Linked DNA regions of Homo sapiens: regions 1, 2, 3 and 5 are each linked to region 4. The links come from fine-mapping of genetic effects on gene expression. A gene starts in region 4. Each other region holds a variant in brackets. All regions are shown on one strand. Distances are between the middles of the regions. Region 1 overlaps SCML4 (Scm polycomb group protein like 4). Region 2 overlaps SCML4 (Scm polycomb group protein like 4). Region 3 overlaps SCML4 (Scm polycomb group protein like 4). Region 4 holds the start of SCML4 (Scm polycomb group protein like 4). Region 5 overlaps SCML4 (Scm polycomb group protein like 4).

The links.
Region 1: its variant is fine-mapped to the expression of SCML4 in whole blood (TOPMed, PIP above 0.99).
Region 2: its variant is fine-mapped to the expression of SCML4 in whole blood (TOPMed, PIP above 0.99). The same link has a PIP of 0.9 or more in blood mononuclear cells.
Region 3: its variant is fine-mapped to the expression of SCML4 in whole blood (INTERVAL, PIP above 0.99).
Region 5: its variant is fine-mapped to the expression of SCML4 in whole blood (TOPMed, PIP above 0.99).

The regions. Positions count from the first base shown.
Region 1 is chr6:107,717,712-107,721,830 of GRCh38, forward strand. SCML4 (Scm polycomb group protein like 4) reads right to left here. Exons shown (of 8, transcript NM_198081.5): 6 at 2,992-3,282. Among named protein-coding and RNA genes, the nearest start is that of SCML4, 100 kb to the right of the region's middle. The variant T/A (reference allele first, on the strand shown) is at 1,729.
Region 2 is chr6:107,754,986-107,759,104 of GRCh38, forward strand. All of the region lies in intron 2 of SCML4 (Scm polycomb group protein like 4), which reads right to left. Among named protein-coding and RNA genes, the nearest start is that of SCML4, 67 kb to the right of the region's middle. The variant G/T (reference allele first, on the strand shown) is at 1,840.
Region 3 is chr6:107,703,437-107,707,538 of GRCh38, forward strand. SCML4 (Scm polycomb group protein like 4) reads right to left here. Exons shown (of 8, transcript NM_198081.5): 8 at 1-1,889. The coding sequence ends at 1,764. Among named protein-coding and RNA genes, the nearest start is that of SCML4, 120 kb to the right of the region's middle. The variant T/G (reference allele first, on the strand shown) is at 2,476.
Region 4 is chr6:107,822,225-107,826,343 of GRCh38, forward strand. It overlaps SCML4 (Scm polycomb group protein like 4), which reads right to left and starts at 2,089. Exons shown (of 8, transcript NM_198081.5): 1 at 1,902-2,089. RefSeq lists an enhancer at 172-241.
Region 5 is chr6:107,729,753-107,733,871 of GRCh38, forward strand. The region is part of intron 5 of SCML4 (Scm polycomb group protein like 4); the gene reads right to left. Among named protein-coding and RNA genes, the nearest start is that of SCML4, 93 kb to the right of the region's middle. The variant G/C (reference allele first, on the strand shown) is at 2,263.

The DNA of each region.
Region 1 (4,119 bases), 100 kb before region 4:
TAATCTTTGTATTTTTAGTAGAGACGGGGTTTCACCATGTTGGTCAGGCTGGTCTCAAACTCCTGACCTCAAGTGATCCACCCGCCTTGGCCTCCCAAAGTGGTGGGATTGCAGGCATGAACCATCGTGCCTGGCTGGTTCTAATACTTCTAAGTTATTAAAAAGACAGCCAGGATTCAGGGTTCAGGTATTGATGTTCTTGGGATGAAAGGCAGCAGGCACAGGTGGACTCCGTGTCTCTGATCTCATCCCAGATCCTGACAGGCAGAAGGGCCTGAGCTAGGGGGCCTCTCCTGGGGTGCAACCAGGCTCCAGCAGAGAGGCTTTCTCAGAGCTGGAGGCTGAGGAAGGGTCTGGGCTGCCCCTCGGCCAGTCGTCTGGCAAGATTACTCAGACTGTCAGGGCCTGATTCCAGGATGATATGAGTTAGCTCTGTGTCCCCACCCAAATCTCACCTTGAATTGTAATAATCCCCATGTGTCAAGGATGGAGCCAGTTGGAGATAATTGAATCATGGGTTTGGTTCCCCCATTCTGTTCCTGTGGTAGCCAGTAAGTCTCACGACATCTGATGGTCTTATAAAGGGGAGTTCCCTTGCACAAGCCCTCTTACCTGTCACCATGTAAGACGTGCCTTTGCTTTCCCTTTGCCTTCTGCCATGATTGTGAGGCCTCCCCAGCCATGTGGAACTGTGAGTCCATTAAGCGTCTTTCCTTTACAAATTACCCAGTTTCGGGTATGTCTTTATTAGCAGAACAGACTCATACACAGGAGAACAAAGGGCCGGTATGGGGATGAAAGTGAAGGACAGGAGGACATCCTAGGGCTCAACTGGAAGGAGGTGTGAGGGGCTGGGGGACAGGAGCTATGCTGAAGCCCTCTGAAGAGCCCTGGATTCCCTGGCCCTGGGTCACCAGTTGGACTGAACAGGGCAGACTGTTGTTGAGTGAGTGATAGAAGTTCTCTCCAACCAAATCATGCCTCCCTCTTACTGCTGGAAATCCTGCATTTAAGACATAGGGCTGAGATTGCACCAACGTGAGTGGGAGAGAGAGTAAATATCTCCTTTTTAAAAAGTGGGACTCTGGGATTATGAGTCAATTCAATCAGCATGGTGTCCTGTGATCACCACCCTGAGAAAAGGGGAATGGGGCTGAGGAGAAGAGGATGAGAGAAAGACATTTAAACTCAAGAGGGACATAAGGATGAGTGTTTTGACAAGAAGACAAAGGGACACCGTGAGGGCACAGACATGATGCATGTTTATTGAACACCTACCACATGCCAGATATTAAGCTAACACTGGGGACAAACCTATGAAATCAAGGCTGCCCCTGGTTTACTTTACAGTGTTGGTTCGTGAAAGATCTTGTCCCTTTCTCTTGTTCTTAGGAATCAAATGGAACAATGTTGCTCTCCTTTGGAAAATAGGGCTCTGCTCACTTAATCTGCCTGGCTCATGGCCCTGTGTGACAGTGTTGGAAAGTGGCCTGCAGGGCATCTCTACATTTGGTAAGAGCTGCTGTGGAGGGAGAATCTGCGCTCTACCCCTCAGAACGCCTCTCCGGCAAGGGGCCCCTTCTCACCTCTCCATCCTTGGCCAGGGGAAGCTGGTCAGGGCCACGCTCATCTGGGTTGGATGAGGCTCTTGGAAGAGAATGTGTGGAGGGTCTTGAATCATACAAAATAGCTCACGTGTGCGGCTTGCTGGGGTCACTGGTGGAAGGA[T/A]CCTAGGCTCAGGGGAGAAATGTGACTTGCCACAGAAGACAGAGCCTGCCCACTGAGGGGCTACAGGGTGGCAAGATGAAGACTCCCAGACTCCTTGGCCTGGGGCCTTCTTTCTTCAGCAGTTCTCAGCTGTGGAGCTGATGGGCTGTGATCTGTTAAGGGATGTGTTAAAAAGATCTATGCTGTAACTACTAACATTTATTGAGCTCTTGTTACCTCCTAGGTCTTGTACTAAATGCATGTATGAACTCATTTAATCCTCCCAACAATCCTATGAGGCAGGTGCTGCCATTATTATTATCACAATTTTATAGGTGAGGAAACTGAAGCACAGGTAAGTTAAGACTTGCAAAAGGTAGGCAGGAAGCAGCAGATCCAGCATCTCAGCCCAGGCTGTCTGGCTCTAGTCCCAGTGATTATCCACTATACTCTATGGCCTTTAGGCACTATCAAAATACTGAAGCTTGAAAATGATTTTTTAAAACATCAATCAGAAGGGCCTTCAAGCTATTACTATAATCCTTTAGCCCTTATAGCGCTTTTGTAGACTGCATTCCAACAAGCTTTCTTTAGTGGATGAGACAGAAGTGGCATTACAACCAGCATTGGGGGAATTTTGCCTAACTCTGCCTCTGCTCATGTATTTGTATCCTGAAGGTGACACTTCCTATGCAAGAGACAATTCTTTACCAAGGTCTGGTTCTCCTTTCTCCTGGGCAGAGCTAACCTACAGCTTCCAGAGTCCCTTATGGTTAAGTGTGGCAAAATGACCAGCTTTTGCCAATGAGATGTGAGTGGAAGTGATGAGCATCACTTTCAGATTGCAGGGAAGCACCTGTGTCTTCTCCACACCTTCTTTCCCTTTCTATTCCCTAATGCATGGGGCATGAAGGCTGTAGAGGGTGGCAGAGCCACAAAATAGATGGAGCCTATGTCCCTATATTGAGATGCATCCATGAATCAGGAACATTCACCTTTGGCTCTCGAACAAAAATTTCTATGGTATTTGAGCCTGTGTACATTTTGGAGTCTACGTATCCTGTGGCCTAGCCTGCCCTAATACACGATTTTCTTTGCTTATCAAAGGTTGAGTTTGGCTGTTTTTGAGAACCTCAAGATCCATGAAAGGACTTGTGGAAATTTCTGATCTCCCAGCAGTCCCACGTTTAAACAGCCACACTCCCCCTTCCCCAGATGCTGTGCTCCCCGCGCAAGGGCAAGGGATGTTAAGTCAGTGGGAAGCTGATGCATGCATTACATTACCACATCTGTTTCCTTCAAGAGAGGTCGTGTTTCTCTTGGGGCTGGAGGCTGGAGGCCTCAGCCCAGGTGCCGAGGGGCCACCAGAAGACATGGGGCTAGTGCGGGGACCACCAGCGGTGGCAGCAGGACCACCCCCAAGGTGGCTGTCTCCAGAGTTCTGCCTCTTGCAGTACAGCGAGGAGGAGGGGTGCAAGGAGCCCCTGTGGTTAAAGGTGGAGGCGGAGGTGTCCACGCTGTAGCGGTTCATGCCCACAGGGTTCACCAGGTACTCTTCGGTGGTGACTGTCTTGACTAAGCAATAAGGCAGTACAGAGAAGCAGATATCAGAGAGCAGTTCAGGAAGCTATCAGACCCTCCGTCTTGGCAAACCCTGCCCTGCCAACACAGTAGCCAGTATTTGTGAGCATGCAGAGAGGAGAAATGAACCTCACAACATAATTCCAAATAGCATACCTGTCAGCAGGCTGAGAGCTGCTTTGCCCACAGGAGCATATTGTAATAGGAATTAGGAGGTGTGCTCCTCGGTGCTTAGAGGAAAATTGATATTTTGGCCATTGATGACTTAATAAGCCCAAATCAGGCCAGGTGCAGTGGCTCCCGTCTGTAATCCCTGAACTTTGGGAGGCCAAGGCAGGTGGATCACCTGAGGTCTGGAGTTCAAGACCAGCCTGGCCAACATGATGAAACTCCATCTCTACTAAAAATACAAAAAATTAGCCGGATGTGGTGGCAGGCACCTGTAATCCCAGCTACTCAGGAGGCTGAGGCAGGAGAATCGCTTGAACCCGGGAGGCAGAGGTTGCAGAGCAAAACTCCATCTCAAAAAAAGAAAAAAAAAAAGAGTAAGATCAAAGACTTTCTTCTGCAGTGGCTCTGCCCTCACAGTCTCTGCTGGCTTCTCAGAATCTCCCTGTACTCCCTGCTCTTGCTCACCCACCAGCACAGCCCCCCTCACCTGGCTCAGGACTCCTGGGAGAGATCAAGCAAGAGTCACAATGTCCCAGAGTCAGGAGAGACAACTGTGGCCTGGGTGGTGGCCCAGGTGCCACAGTGCTTTCTCCCCACACCTTTAGTCCTGATACAAACACATGAGGGCAGCCATCCTCCGCCACGGCTAACAAGCAGGGA
Region 2 (4,119 bases), 67 kb before region 4:
TCCAGCTACTCAGGAGGCTGAGGCAGGAGGATTGCTTGAACCCAGGAGATCGAGGCTGCAGTGACCTATGATCACACCACTACACTCCAGCCTGGGCAACAGAGACAGACCCTGTCTCAAAAAAAAAAAAAATTACTAGAGAGGAATCTGTTCACTGAACCCACCTCAAATGAAGTAATGGAATTATAATTGGCTGTTACTTCTGTCCATTTCTGCCCAACTGAAATTACAGGGATTAGATTAAATTGCCTGATTGCAAGGAAACCTCCTGTATTTATCCAGTCTCTAAAACAACTGCTAGAACTTTTGAATGAAAGAAAAAGTCACGAGCAACTATGGGTAGTATATGGCTTTTTAAAAATATCCTTCGCTAGATAAAAAATCACGAGTAGAAATACCCTTTTGACTTAGCATTCAGAAATTTCAATCTCATTGCTTAATATAAAGAATAAAAAGTAGCCTAGTGTAGAAAAGGGAGTCACCCATGATTTTGGAAAAGTCCTAAAAAAGAAGAGCACGGATATGAGCCCACTGGCTAGAAGCTTTGCTCTAGTGTGATGCAGGGCCCAGTCCATCAGCACAAACCTCTCTCCAGTGGAATGGGGGGGTTCTCTGCCTGTCGCAACCTATCCAAGCTGTTCTCTGGCAGGGCATTTGTCTTTGTTGTTGCCTTAGGTTTCTAAAAAAAAAAAAAAAGCTGTCTATTTTGTTTTTTAAATGGACAAAATAAAACACAGTTCTGATATAGTGGTTTCTAACACCATTCTTCAATGTAAGGAAAAAAAACTCCTTGCAGACATGGCTGATTTTAGGATTAGGGTAGGGATTACACACTGGGAGCCTAGAGCATCTTGTAATGCCAGAAAGTAAGACAACACTAAGGAAACAAAACACACACAATGGTGGGGACTGGTTACAGGGACACAGGTGCCAACTGAAAGAGCTCCCAGTGGCCAAATTCGGACCAAGAGGAACAACAAATAAATAATGTAGTAATGGATTATAACTCAAAGTATGAAATAAATATTCATGAATCCACACTGACATAAATAGGTGGTTGACTCAGTAAATAAAAGGGAAAGAACAAACAACTCTCCCATGCATAAAAATTTCAAATAATTTATGTAGACACCCCTCCCTCAAGTAGGTGAAGTGCAATTCCCTACTCCTTACGGATGGGCTGTGCACAGTGAGTACTTCCAAAGAGTACAGTAAGGAAATGAAGGGGAAATATAACTTTACAATGGAGAAACCTGATAAATAAGACTTCAACCATAGGATCAAGGTCAACATCATCAGTGATAAGTCATGTCACTAGCATGTACTCTCACCATATGATGAAAATGCCACGTCACCTCTGGGATCTTCTTCCCCAAGCCCCCTAACCCTAGTCTAATCATGAGAAAAACATTAGACAAACTGAAATTGCAGAACACTTTACAAAATACCCAACCAGTACTCCTCAAAACTGCCAAAGTCATCACAAAAGGAAATTCTGAGCAACTTTCCCAGCCCAGAGGAGCTTAAGGAAACATGACAACTAAATGTTATGTAGTATCTTGGATGGGATCCTGGAATAGAATAGAATAGGGAAAAGCTAATTAAATCGGAATAAAATATTGACTTTATTTAATAATGAAGTATTATGATGGGTTCACTAGTTGAGACAAACATACCACAGTAATATGAGATGTTAAAAATGGGGGGAAATCAGGTGCGGGGTACGTGAGAATTCTCTGTTTTATCTCTGCAATACTTCTGTAAACTGAAAACTATTCTAAAATAGTGTTTGTTTTCAAAATATTAAAAACAGGATGTGGCAGAATAAACTGGGTAAAT[G/T]GAGAGGAGGAGAGAAGAGAGGCCTCTTCCTGGCAGCACAGAACTGGAAGCAGCTTGCTGTGCAGGACGCCATGCTCTGACATACAGGAGCTAATCCTGGGCCTTCAAAGCCAACATCCCTGCCCAAATGCTAGTGCAGTTGCCACCTTTACCTGAGATTCAAAACCTCAACCCAGCAGGTGTGGCGACCCCTCATCCAAGGCAAGGTCTGTGCTTTGCCTCATTAGAGAATACTGCTGGGACAAAGCGGTAGGGCAAAGTGTCCCTACCAGCTGGAGTCTCCACCAGGGGGGCTGGGGAATCTGGAATCAGCTCATCTTTCTTTTCCATTTATAGAACCAAAATATGGGCCTGGGGAATTTCTGGCTCCAGCTGTCATTTAGGGGAGGACCTTGTCTAAGACATTTGCTAGAACATCACTGGAAAGAATTGGGAGGGGATTTGGGGGGAAACGGAGATGTGCGGTCAAGAGCACACTAAAGGGGAGAGGATCGGTTGATATAAAACTCAAGGATTTTTCTAGAAACATCTGGCTTTGGCAGTAACAGAAATGCCAACTAAACATTGTTTGACAGACTGGTAGCAAGAGGTGGATAATCTGAGGATGGAGAGTGTGGCTGGGGAAGGATGAGGATGTATAGAGGCTGCTGGCACATCCGCAGAGGGTAAGCCAACAAAGCAAGATTTTAAAATGTGTTTAGGGCAGCAGTGGGCACATGCAAAGGAATACCAGCTTTGGATCTGGATTGAATGTCCAGCGTGGCCACTCGCTGATTCTGAAGCTTAGTACTTAGGCCCTCAGAGCCTGCCTTTCCTCATCTGTAAAGATAATAGCCCTCACACAGGGATGTAGTTAGAATTAAATGCAGAAGTTTAGCATAATGCAAAGTGAGAACTCAATAAAAGTTAATTGTCATTATTGGTGTTAGTATTATTATTGTTACTTTTAGAAATTCCAAAAATGCAAATAAGTCCCAAGTTTCTTGTTCATGAAGTGATGGCAGGAGGAGGAAACTGCCCATCTTTCCTGGAACCCATCTACATTTTCCATGCTTATCTCTTGGGATCACATCTTCAGAAATCTCTGCAAATCGACCCTTTTTCCTCACACCTCGCAGATGATCCCCTCTGTGAAACATGCTTCCAATCCATCTTGAAATGGTTCCTAAGTGTTGCTTATGTAATACCTATCCTTTCCAAGTGGCATCATTTAAGCCAAATCTAAAAAGGAAAAAAAATCATTCATTCAATCAGACAGACATTTATTCAACAAAAACTTCTTGAGCACCTACTATGTGCCAGGAACTGTTCTAGGTGCTGAAGATTCAGCTGTGAATGGGGAAGATAAACTTCTTGTTCTCAATGCAAGCAACTAGGTGACCAGGGTAGGCCTATAAAGGGGTAACATTGAAGTCAGGATGTGAGTGGCTAGAGGTAGCCTGTTGTGACTGGAGAAAGCTTTCCAGGCAGACAGAACAGCTTGTGCAAACATTCTAAAGCTTGGCTTCTTCAAGAAACCAGAGTGGTTGGAACTGTGGGCAAGAGTCAGAATGGTGCAAGAAGAGGTCAAGTTAGGTGGTTAGGTTGAGATAATGGCAGTTTTCTAACTTAGCGTTATGCATTGAATTGTGTCTCTCTAAAAAGACATAGGTTCAAGTTCTAATCCCCTGTACCTGCAAATATTGGCTTTATTTAGACATAGGGTCTTTGCAGAGGTAATTAAGTTAAAATGAGTGCATACTGCATTAGGGTTGGTCTTAACCCAATGACTGGTGTGCTTATAAGATGAAAAAAACTTGATACAGGCACAGACACCTGTTTAGAGAGAATGCTATGTGACGACAGAGGCAGAGATTGGAGTAATGTGTTGATAGCCAAGAAACAGCCGGCAACCACCAGAAGCTAGGAAGAGGCAAGAAAGGACCCTCCCCTGGAGTCTTCAGAAAGAGAGCATGGCCCTGCTGACACCCTGATTTCAGTCTTCTAGCCTCCAGAAAGGATGTTTTAGCCACCCAGTTGGTAGTTCTTTGTTACAGCAGCCCTAAGGAAACAAATACAGTCAGGATAACAAGCTTGGATTTTATTCTATGAGTGATGGAAATAATTACAGGATTTTAAGCGGGGAAACACACAAGCTAGTTTTCATTTTATAAAAATAAATATGGTGCTAGGCCCAGTGGCTCACATCAGAATCTCTGAGTGCTGTTATCCCAGCACTTTAGGAGACTGAAGCAAGAGGGTCACTTGAGCTCATGAGTTCAAGACCTGTCTGGACAAAAT
Region 3 (4,102 bases), 120 kb before region 4:
CAGCCGCCATTTGTGTGTCTGAAAAGGAGGCTACGATGTGCTTTCTCAAGTACTGCACATGAAAGTGGGCCTAACGGCATGGCATGGACTATTTCTTATGGCCTTCATCTGGATTCTAACTATATAGAGGGTCACTCTGCAGATCTACCCAGGGCTGCCCTCAAGGTTATACAGGTCATGCTCTGTACAACGGCAGCTGATCAAGCGGTGAGGAGGTTGAGCCCCCACCCTGCTCCACTTGCCAGCTGAGACCCCTGCTCAGGTTGTATCCCAGAGAAAGGGGTGCCTTTTCTGATTCACCTTTGGGCGAAGGGAGGCCCTGAGTCATCCCTAACCCTCTCCCTCCCAGAAATTCCAAAATCTAATGTTCATCTCCTCATCTCCAACACTGTTGATGTCCTTTTAAGGAAGAGAATATGCACATGGCAAAGGCGAATTCATTTTGAAGATATGTTTTCTGCTCAGTGTGAAAGAAGAAGAAGAGAGGTGGAGGGAAACAGAGAAAAGAGAAGGATAAAACGAATGGTGGAGAAGTTGTGCCTCTGCCTAATAAATTGTGGATTCATTGTCCGTCTCTGGACACAGCTGCAAAGGAGCAGAAAATCAATTTTTTCTATTACTCCACTGTGAGGAAGGAAAACCTATTTGTAAATTGAATTAAACCCCATAATAGCATGTCTGTGTATTTGTTGAGGACTAGAAAAATTAGCCACAGATACAACTACATAACCCAGCAATGTAACTAGAAATCAACACTCTCCCATTTCAAAGCTTCGTTGAGACATTTTCTTTTCCTTTTTTAAAGAAACACCCATGGCTAAATGTCACTAAGATTCTTCGGCATGCCAACACTTCAACACCTCAATAAGGACTCTGGAAGGGAAGGAACTCCAAAGTCCCATCTGGGTAGAGCGTGCTTCCAAATTCTTGCCTTTGCTAGTTGAGTATCAGTCAGTCAGTCAATAATGATTGGATACGAACTAGACCCCTCTAGCTGATGGTTTCTTCCCAAGTCGCAATCTGTGGTGCTAACTGTGGAATAAATCCCCTGTTTCTGTGTGGGCTAGATCTTGTTCACAGACACCCTAACCCATCCACTCAGTACTGAACAATCCTGCTACTGCAGTCAGTGAGGGTCCTGAAATTTCATTAGCAGTCTGCCCTCTAGCGGAGAAACACAGTACTTCAGATTTTCTAGGAACAGAAAAGATTTTTTTTTTTTTCCTTTTTCTTTCACGGCGTAAAATAATTCAAGTTTTCCAGACAGTGCAAGGTGAGGCAGTCATCTTCAGAAGTCAGCTTCCAGAGCTGAGGCAAACAAGGCTCACATGGATAGGTCCCCAGGTCAGAGTTAGAGGCAGATGGTGCTGAGGGGGTTGTCCCTGCAGAGACCGCAGGGACAAAGGTCCTTCTTTCATCCTTTGAACCCTCCAGAACTCTCCTTGGGCATAAGCATTCAGTTCCCCACTCTCTCGTTATGCAAATAGGACCCACTTTAAGAGAAACCAGCATAACAGGGATGTTAAAAATCACAGGCTTTTGTAATTTTTTGGCAAATTATGAACACAGAGGAGCCTCTCGAAAAGGTCCATGTTAAATTCTTCAAAAGGCAAAGATTCACAAGTTTTATAAAAAGACCACGTCTCTGTGGCTGTTAATTTTAAGAGGAGAGTCTAGTTTGTGATGTTGGCGGGATATTGGTAAGGCAGAAGATAATCTTGGGATCTGTTGTTTTGGGTTTCGCTTCTGTCTTTTTAAAAAAGTCAGAACTTGGCTTGCTTCAGTTTGTCAATGTGGTAGCAGAGTTTCAGTGCAGGTCCCAGCTTCAGGCCCAGGTACTTCATGACCATGTCACTCTTCAGCAACAGCAGAGCGTTGCCATCAATCTCCTGGTGGGATAGGATCAGAAGAAAGATAAACCCAGAAGATGGTCAGAGTCATCGAACAGTGGCTAAGGTTAAGGTGTGGTCAAGGGGTGTGCTCAGGGCATATGGATTGATTTAGGCAGCATATTCTCTTGGTCCTGGGGCAAGGTCTTTTAAAATATTAAAGCAAACAAATACTGTGTTCTCCTCTCCCCATCATCTCCCTGGAGTCATTTGATACACGGGGTGTTTCATATTCCTGCCCTCCCCTCATAGAAGGAATCAAACACAACCTCATGTGTGTTCCCAATATCCCACTTAGGAAGTTTATCTCCTCATCCAAACTTGGCTAAAGGGGCAAAAACCGTCATCCATTAGAACCTGGAACTAGAGGGTCTTTCCATTCCAAACCTCCACCTATTGCCCTAATTTCTCATTTCTTAGTAGGCCCACCTACCTTTAGCTGATAACAAAGCAACTCATTCCACCTATGGAAGATTTCAGGTGTGTTTAGCCCTGTCTATTCCACTAGATGGAATACACTAAAGAATGCCCCTGCTTCATCTCAGGGTTCAGCACAAAGAACTACTAAGAGGATGAGCCAGTCCTT[T/G]GAGGTTTGGTCCCGGTGTTGCTGCCATTGGTCATTGAAAATGGTCACCCTCCAGAATGCATGTGGAGTTCATGAACCTAGCAAGGCTGGGCTTCCATGGTCACCTTTAGTGCCATTTTCAGGTCACTGGAGACAAAGGGTAGAAATTTCAGGTGCTCAAGCAGGGAGAAAAGACATAGTTACAGGATTCATATAATGGTGCCAGGGTCACCAGCTCTCTCATTCATCTGCCCAGCCAGCCAGTATTGATGGAGCACCCACTCTGTGTCACTCTCCATGTCTTTGGCAAAATGGCAGTGGGCAAGGCTTACTTGTGGGCCACTCCCAGGAGCCTCATTTTCTACTGTCTTTTATTTCCCTCACCTCCTGGACTCCCACTGTCTCCTCCCACCCTGGAAGACAGCCAGACTCCCCCTGCCCAAATCTGTCCAAGCATAACCCACTCTGTGGTTCTTGGTCTTAAGTCCCCATTGTTAGGTGAGGTCAACATATGCCTAATAAAAGGCAAGTGCTGAGTTAGATGAGAATCCTCCTAAGATTGGAGAGCATGATTTCTATGACAGAATCACCAAATAAAATAAGAAACAGGAAACAAAAATAATGGTCACTGTGGAAGGCGGAATAATGCTCCTTCCCCTCCATGCACGACGTCTGGATTCTAGTCCCCAAACCTGTGAATGTCAAGTTACACGGTGAAGGGGAATTAAGGTTGCAGATGGGATTAAGCTTGCTAATCAGCTGACTTTAAAGTAGGGAGATTATCCCGGATTATGGGGCCAGGTGGGTGGGGGGAGTGGCGGCTGTGTAATCACAAAGCTCCTTAAACGTGGAAGAGGACATCAGCAGTGAGAACCAGGGATGGCAGCCCGAGCAGCCGAACAGGCCTCAGCTTGATGTTACAGGCTTTAAAGATGATGGCAGGGGGACAGGAGCCAAGGACTGATGGTGGATCTAGAAGCCAGAAAAGACAACCAAGCGGATTCTCCCTAGAACCTCCAGAAGGAAAGGCAGCCTTGCTGGCTGAGCCCACTGAGACCCATGCCAGGCTCCTGATCCCCAGAGTGGTAAGACAGAGAATGTATATTGTGTGAGGCAACTACGTTGGTGGTAATCTGTTACAGCACAATATAAAATGAGTACAGTGCCATGCGCGGTGGCTCACACCTGTCATCCCAGCACTTTGGGATGAGACCAGCCTGGCCAACATGGTGAAACCCAGTCTCTACTAAAAATATAAAAATTAGCTGGGCGTGGTGGTGGGTGCCTGTAATCCCAGCTGCTCGGGTGGGCTGAGGCACAAGAATTGCTTGAACTGGGAAGGCAGAGGCTGCAGTGAGCCGAGATTGAGATCGCACTACTGCATTCCAGCCTGGGCGACAGAATGAGACTCCGTCTCAAACAAAAACAAACAAAAACAAAATGCATATAGTAAGCCTGGCAGGTAAATTATTGATTCTTATCTTTAAAAAAATTACCATCTCTATATTTTAGCATATCTCAAAATCATTATAATGCTATCTGCTCAGTGAAGGCTATCCGAGTCAGGAACCGTGCTGAACACCTTTTGTGCATTTTCTTATTTAATCCTCGAAGTGGTTTAGGAACAGGTGCTACTGCGGTTTGCCTG
Region 4 (4,119 bases):
ACTCTCATTATAAAAGTTCTTGCAGCAAGTGACAGTATTTGGGTCTGGCTTGTTTTCTGTGGGCTGAGCTGCTTAGCTTACCTGCTGCTTGCTAGAGGAGACAGCCTTTCACCCTCACCCCCAGGAGTCAAGAACCAGAAAGTGAAACTGCTTCTGCTGATTTCCCTCGCCTCGAAAACACACCACCAAAAGCAAAGAAATGATGAAAAGCAACTTACTCGTTTCGCTTATTGTTTTCTTGTCTTTCTATTACCGTTCATTTACTCTTTTCTTTTTTTCTTTTCTTTTTTTTTTTTTGCAGCAAAATAAAAGTAATTTTGGGGACACAGGGAAGAAATGTAAACATGTTATACATGAAAGAACTGGATTTTTGTGGGCTTTGCACTTTTGTTATAATTCCACAAATGAAGCAAACTGATGAATTTACCAAAATATTTCAGAGCTCATCTACGTACACAATTTAAAGAGCTAAAGAAAACACATTCATATTTTTTAAAAATTCTGTCAAAAAGCCTGTTTAAAAGTTATAGTTTGTGAAGCCACCAATTTCCCTAAAACTGAAGATTCTACATTAACCTTTTGAGTTTAGACGATCACGCAGTACCGATTTTCTAGGTAATCTTCACCCAGCTGCTGTTGCTCAAACAGCCCCTCATTTTATCAGACTAGTTCTACCAAGCAACACAAAAAATGCTCCACACAAATATTATACCCCCCAGATAGTTTAACACACTAAGAATTCCTTTGTAGTTATTTTTATGCTTTCACTCCAGATATTCTATTTTGCTTTAAAAAAAAAAAAGTGGAGAAAAAAAGCAGCTATATCCCTCATTCTTCAAAAATGGTTCCTCTGGTTGAAAAGAAAGAAAAACAGCATATAACAAATACCCTGATTCTGAAGTGCCTGGATTACTTTCTCAAGTACTGTAGTGTCTGAGATCAGTAAAAAACCACTTTCTCAGAAAGCCACTGATTGTCTAACCCTCATGAGTACCGTCATGGAATCTAGAGACAACACGAGGAGACACCTCTCGTTCACGATCACAGATAGTGGAAAGAACTTTGACTCAAGCACCTCAACTCAGCAAAACAGCTCAGCAGCCTGCACCCTGGCCTCATCCACCGCTCCTGTCCAGCCAGCAATCAACCTGGAGAGGACCCCTCATGCTTTGGGAGGAGCACGTGGAAGCTGGTTCAAGTCACAGTGCTCCACCTGGGAAGGAGGTGATTTTGAGCTTGGGAAAACTGCCGCTAATACTCCATAGTCACCAGTTTTTTTCCCAAAAAACGAATTAAAACCAGAAACTAGCAGTAAATATTATTCTTATTTATGCCTCATAAATTAGGAAAAACCAGCACAAAGACATGTGAAATATTCTACCTGGGATATTTGAAATAAAATTAAATGGGAAAAAAAACACTTTTACATGTTCATAACATACCAATTTTAATAACCAAATTTTAGGTAAATATTTTTATCCCAAGACATAGTACAATTTTTTTAAAATTAAAAAGCAAAACAAAGCAAAATTATCGTGAAGGGAAAAAATAACTAACCGGTTACTTGAGTTCACATTTGGAAAAAAATAACTTTCTAGGTATTTAAATGCAGAGTTAAAGAGTAATGAACATGTATATAGCCCAAATTTATAAACTATATAATTCAATGTTACATTTTCCCCTCTGAGATCTGGTTAATAAATTAAATGCTGTACTTTGCATATGAGGAACTAAAGTTTACCTACTGGACTCAGTGGTTTTAGTGCAGGACACTCTTGTGCGTTGCCATAGAGGTAGGCATGCAACCCAGAAAAAACTGAAACAGGTAACCTGTCATGCTGACAGTTACAAGAGAAAGATCCCGTGTCAACGGCACGCCTCCAATTGTGCATCTCCCTTACCTACAGCTTGTTCACCAGAGCCCTGAGCAGGTTGTTTACCAGGTCGGGAGTGTTGACTCAGAAGACAGATGACTTTCAGCACATGCAAACCGAGTATTGCAAAAGCTATCTTCCACCCGTGTTAGTAGCTCACAGTTAGTCTCCAGCAGCCCTGCGCTCCAGCTGCAAACATCTCATTAGACTAATGCATTCAGCACAGGCAGAAAACTCGATTTACCATAGCTACAGCAATGAATTTCCATTACGATGACAGCTTCAACCACATCATGTCCGGAAAACCAGCCAACCACTGGCTTTTAAAGAACACACACATTTTACATGCAGAAAACGAGGCCTCTGTGTGTGTGTGTGTGTGTGTGTGTGTGTGTGTGTGTGTGTGTGTGTGTGTGTGTTTTGTGTTTCCTTCCTCTTAGCAGCCTAAGAGAAATGTGCAGTGTAGCTTTTTGTCGACATGAGCTGCAAGGTAATGACACTTCTGCTTCTTTGGTAGTTACATCCTTGTAATAACCTGAATTATGTCACAATGGTTAGAATGGGTGTTTCCAACATTTCAGTTTTCATTACCCCTCCTCTGTTGCCATAGAAACCAGACTGTAACATCGTCTCTTTGTCCCAATCCTGCAGCAGTGTGGGCCAACACCAGGCTTATAAGACACTGGTGATCTGACAGAGTGAATGTTTGACTTTGGACAAATAAAACAAAAAGAAATATTACAATAGCATCATTGTTCAGGAGACCCTGTGTGATTCCCAGAGCAGTGTGCCTATCCAGGTGTGTGCACACACCATGGTTGTACATATTAAATCAGCGGCTGCCCACAACATATGTGTACAGTTCATTAAAGCCGGCCCTGACTTTGGCTCCAGGCCTGTATGTGTGTGTGTGTAAGCATCTCTACCCACCTCAACGTGGTGGGACCTGCACAGGATAGAAACAGGGCAAGAGTGACTATTCATTCCCATGCCCCATTGCATTTTCTGCAGCAAATCAATATATATCGGCGAAGGGATCTTTTCTTTTCCTTTCTTTTTGTAAAGTGGAGCAGGGCTCCCCATTGCCCATTTCATCCACTCTGGGATATTGGCATATTCACAGGTATTTCCTACAAGATGAAACATCCATTCTACAAACATGTGGCTTACTCCTAGGGATGAGCAGCAAACAAATTTAGCCGGGACTAAATATCAACCAGGGCTAACGAAGGCTTAGGCCACAACCTGGCCAGTTACTGAGAGTGAAAAAAACTGCAATGGACAACTTGAGGTTTCTCTAAATATATGTGTAGAGTCACATTAGAAGTACATAAGAAATCTCTCCTCTGAAATTTATTATGAAAATATAAAAAATTGTTTTAAGTCAAAGCCTTGTAATTAATTGAGCAAGAAGAAATTCACTACTTTAGTTCATTTAATCATCAAATTTTGTTGTTTTGTATGGGAAAAGGCAGGTTTGGTAGTTTGCATTTTCATTTCATATAAGTTGATTTCACTAAAGAAGGAGGAAGAGGAGAAGAAAAGAAAATAAGATGGATGGGCCAGGTGCAGTGGCTCATGCCTGTAATCCCAGCACTTTGGGAGGCCAAGGCGGGTGGATCACGAGGTCAGGAGATCGAGACCATCCTGTGAATGGTGAAACCCCGTCTCTACTAAAAATACAAAAAATTAGCTGGGCGTGGTGGCGGGCGCCTGTAGTCCCAGCTACTTGGGAGGCTGAGGAGGGAGAATGGCGTGAACCCGGGAGGCGGAGCTCACAGTGAGCCGATACCGTGCCACTGCACTCCAGCCTGGGTGACAGAGCGAGACTCCATCTCAAAAAAAAAAAAAAAAAAAAGAAAATAAGATGGATGGGCTAGGTGTGGTGGCTCATGCCTGTAATCCCAGCATTTTGGGACTCCTGGACTTGAGGTTAGGAGTTCGAGACCAGACTGGCCAACATGGTGAAACCCCATCTCTACTAAAAATACAAAAATTAGCCAGGCTTGGTGGCGCTTGCCTGTAATCCCAGCTACTCGGGAGGCTGAGGCAGGAGAATCGCTTGAACCTGGGAGGGAGAGGTTGCAGTGAGCTGAGATCACGCCATTGCACTCCAGCTTGGGTGACAAGAGTGAAATTCCATCTCAAAAAAAAAGAAAAAAGAAAGAAAAAGAAAAGAAGAAAAGAAAAGAAAAGAAAGAAAAGAAAAAGAAGAAAAGAAAAGGAAAGAAAAGGAAAGAAGATG
Region 5 (4,119 bases), 92 kb before region 4:
CAGACACAGTAGAAATTGTGAAGGTGGTAAATTAATATTTGGAATGCATTGAGCTAGCCCCAACCTATCTCTTCAGGCAGGGTGTTGTCTAGAAAAGAAACTATGGTAGATAACTGAGTCTTTTATTTGAAAGCTTCCCCAAAGAGATTTTACAATCTCCTTTAGAGTGAGGCCATTGTGCTATGAATCTCATTGCCTAAAAGTTCCTCCTTACATCTAGCCTCAATTCTTCTTGCTTCAGTTAAAACACATGACTGCTGGACATGTACCCTTTACACTATCCAACATGTTAGGTCACCTCAACATCCAACATGAGGCAGATGAATTCTAGGTATGCAGAACTACTAGGAGCTTAAGAATTTAATTGAACTGTGACATATGTTTCTTACCTAAATCCAATATTTAAAGTCAGTAAAAAGAAAGGACCAAGTCTGTATCTGGAGAGGGAACCCCCACTTTTCAAGCGCTTTTGTGGCTGACTGGTGAGCAAACACCAGATGGGGCCAGCCGACCTGTTGGAGGATCTAACTCCTGCACACAGAGTCCCGGCAGACCGTAGGGCTCACAGGCGAAGGCACTCATGGTCGAAATTTCCTCCTGTGTCCATACAAAATCGTTTTCCATCTGAAAGAAGCTGTCTTGTCACCCTGGCACTGCTCATCAACAAGAGGCTCCAACCCAGCCTGTGTGAGGCCATTTAATTGCAGTGGAGAATGCCAGCTTAACAAAGCAAGGTAAATGAGTGGCTTTTTACTCACTTCTGTAACCCTCTGCATCCAGCCAAGAGACTAATGTTGCCATTTAAGAATCATTAAATCTTTTCCTCCAGAAAAAAAGAATGATCTGCCTTTTGCACAGTCACGAGAGCATGCTTAAATAGAAAGGAAAACACACACGTGGCCCCATCAAAGAAATCTGCCACATTTTCAAGGTTTGGCGTCCTGGGAGCTTTCAGGACAGACTGATGGTCCTTTTTCACCATCGCTAAACCTGCTTGTGGACTATGGTTCCCTCCAGCCACTGTGTATAAAGCCTGCCTATTAGTGAGGCCAAAGAACACTCTAGAAGCATGTAAACCCACTCAAGCCTCAAGGCATACCTGTTTGCATATGAACCTGAACTGTGCCTAAGCCTTCCGGTTTAGGGATCAAAGCTTCAGGGTTCTGAGTCCAGAGTGTGTGGATTCCTCCCTTGCTCCCTGATCCTTGCTGAAGCCTGGGGTGGAGATAGGGTTAGGTAATGCCCCTGCATCCATGGCTTCCAGGACACCCAGGTGCAGCCCATTTCTGCTACAGTCCTGGAGGGTCAGGTGTGAGCCCCTGAAATGTAGAGAACCTCCAAAGAGAGAAGCAGAAAGAGGAAGAGGTGCAGGAGAAAGCCACGAGCCAGAGAGAGAAAGAGAAAGTCCCAAAACAGAGCGGCAGGGAGGGGAAAACGGACCTTATGTATAAAACTATAGATGCTCCTGACCAAGTGTCAGCTCTCCTCACTTAGGACACAAGGCTTAACTGCTTACAGCCCAGTGGGCTCGGACTATTGATTTTATTTTTAAAAACTAAACTGGCATTTTACCTGGATTCACTAACCAAATGAAGTCCTGAAACACAACAATTCCACTATGCAAAATTATTCTCACATAATACCTATTAAGGCAATAAGAACCACAACATCTAGTCTTAGACACTATTTGTCATCTCTAAACAGTTCTGCCTGTTTGTCTTTCTCTCTCTCTCTCACCCCCCACTTCCCGCATCAGTCTTCCCAGTTGAGGGAGCAGCTGCAGAGTGAGCCCTTTCCACAATCAGCACGACCACCTTCCTCCAGACTGGGAGCCCTGGCCTTGCTCAGGATTGATTGCCTGACCCCTTTGCCGGTCTGCCCAGCCCTGCCGACCCCCACACCCTGCCCAGGCAATGGTCAGTGTCCTGTGGCCTCCGTGTGTGAACAGTTTGGTTCGGCTTGCTGACAGAGATGGCAACATCAGAGATTCCTAGCCCTGAAACCCAGATTAGAAAAGGCAGGAGTGCAGTTCGCAGATTTGTAGAGCTGTGGAGCAGCTACCCCTCTTTGCTTAGCCAGGTGCCATCACCTAGATAGTACAGGAAAAGGAGACCTGCGAGGAGAGGGGCAGGAGGGAGAAGGCGCAGGAAGCAGTAGCAGGTGCTCGTGCCAGCTGCACCTCTTTTACTCAGAGCCCAGACACAGGTGCTTCGGTGCCTACCTTGGTGGTTGTGTCTCTGCCACCCGGCAGCCTCTCCCACT[G/C]TCCTCTGGGGGACCGCCGGTTTCCAGCACGTGCTTGGTGCTGTGGGATGCAGAGGGGCCTTCTGCTGTGAATCTCTAACGGACTTCCTGGTGACCAAAACCTGAAGGTTTCCTCCCCTGCATGCAGCCTTTCACTGAGGCTCCTGTGGAGGTTTGCAGATTTTCTTTTCTCAAACTCAGTCCCGCCCCTTGTTCTTGCAGATAAGGGAGTTTTCCCTTAGGGCCCTCTGTGGCCTCCTGGCCCAGCCTTTCTGGTTCAAAGGGCACAGGGCCATACTACCTATGAGGCTGAGCATTTCATTTGCTTCAATTAAATTTTCCATTAACTTGGTCTCTGGCCAGTATGGATTTTCTCTCTAAGGTTGTCTCTGCAGTTCAGATCACTCAGCCCTGAGAATCAACCTTATGACTCCCCTCTGGTCCATTTAAGTACATTTCTATTTTTTCTCCCCTAATGAGATGCACAGCAACCGACCATAATTTTAATGCCTGACACCTGAACTTCTTACATCCTCTCAGATGTTTCTGGTTTGCCTAAGACTTTGTTCTAAGCCTAGGGGTTGATTTCCTCCTTTGGAAATTTTGACCAAAGGCATTTTTGACCAAAGTCATCTGTTTGGGATAATGAATGGCCTTTCTGTGCTCTCGGGAGGAGAGCAGGTTCCATACCACCCTCCATATGATCTCGCAGCTTTGCCAAACCTCCACGCCAAGCTTATGAGAATTCCCGAGAGCTGGGGGAGGCGAAGTGGGTGGGACATCCTGTGGTCACGCTGTTTCCTCCACAGCCCCCACAATTTTTTGGTCTTTCATAGAACCTTGGGGAAATTAAAAGTGGTCCTTAATCAGGAAAATGCTGAAGTTCCTGGAATAGAGGACGCCTTGTAAGTTTCCTTTCTAAATGGACATCTCGACTTTGAGAGAGGTTCACAGCACTCCTAGCATTGCTCACTCTGGTGGAGCAAGTTGCTGTGCTGTGAGATGCTCTGCAAAGGGACCCATCTGGCAACAAACCAACAGCTCATTGGAAACTCAGTCCTGCTGACAACCATGTGAAAAAGCTGGAAAAGTGGGTCCTGCCCTAGTTGAGGTTTGAGATGCAGCCTTGTGAGAGATTCAGAACCAGAAGGCCTGTGGCTGCACCTGGTCCCCTGACCCACAGAAGCTGTGAGACCCTAAATGTTATTTTAAGCCCCTAAGTGTTGGGGGTAATTTATGACACAGCAAAAGATAACTATTGTGGACAGAAGAAAGGAAGCCGTTTCATTCCTCTTGATTCTGCATGTCCAGATTGGAAGTTGTCATTATTAACTCAGCAGTAGCTAGGATAGATCTGGTACAGAGTATCTGCCCACTTCTCTGCCAGGGAGTTTATGTTTGTTTGTTGTAGTTTTTTTCAGCAAAGGGTTTGTTGCTTATGAATGAAACACAGAAAGCACCACTATTAGGAGAGAGTTCATGAAGTTCATCTTAGAAGCCTACTGGTTTCCTAAGCTGCTTCAGCTCCTCTTGGCATGGTTTGCCATTCTAACCCTAGTTCTCAAGCATGGACAACAGATAATGGTGTGAGTAGCCTGCAGATAGCAGTACCTTAGGGTCCGCCACAGGGGCTCAGGGTTGTGGTCCAGGGGAATAACCAGAAGGGGTCTCTAATACAACCTGTGCAGGTCCTGGAGGCCTCGAATGGCTGCATCTCACATACCCTGTCCCTTTGTTTCCACCAGTCCTTGTGCTTCCACTGTTCTGAGGTATAATCAGAGAACTTGGTTTCCAACCCCTTGGATCTACTTAGATGCCTGGCCCATCTCCCGGACCTACTCTTCTGTCAGAGGCAGGAGCCTCTTTGGACAGGCTCAT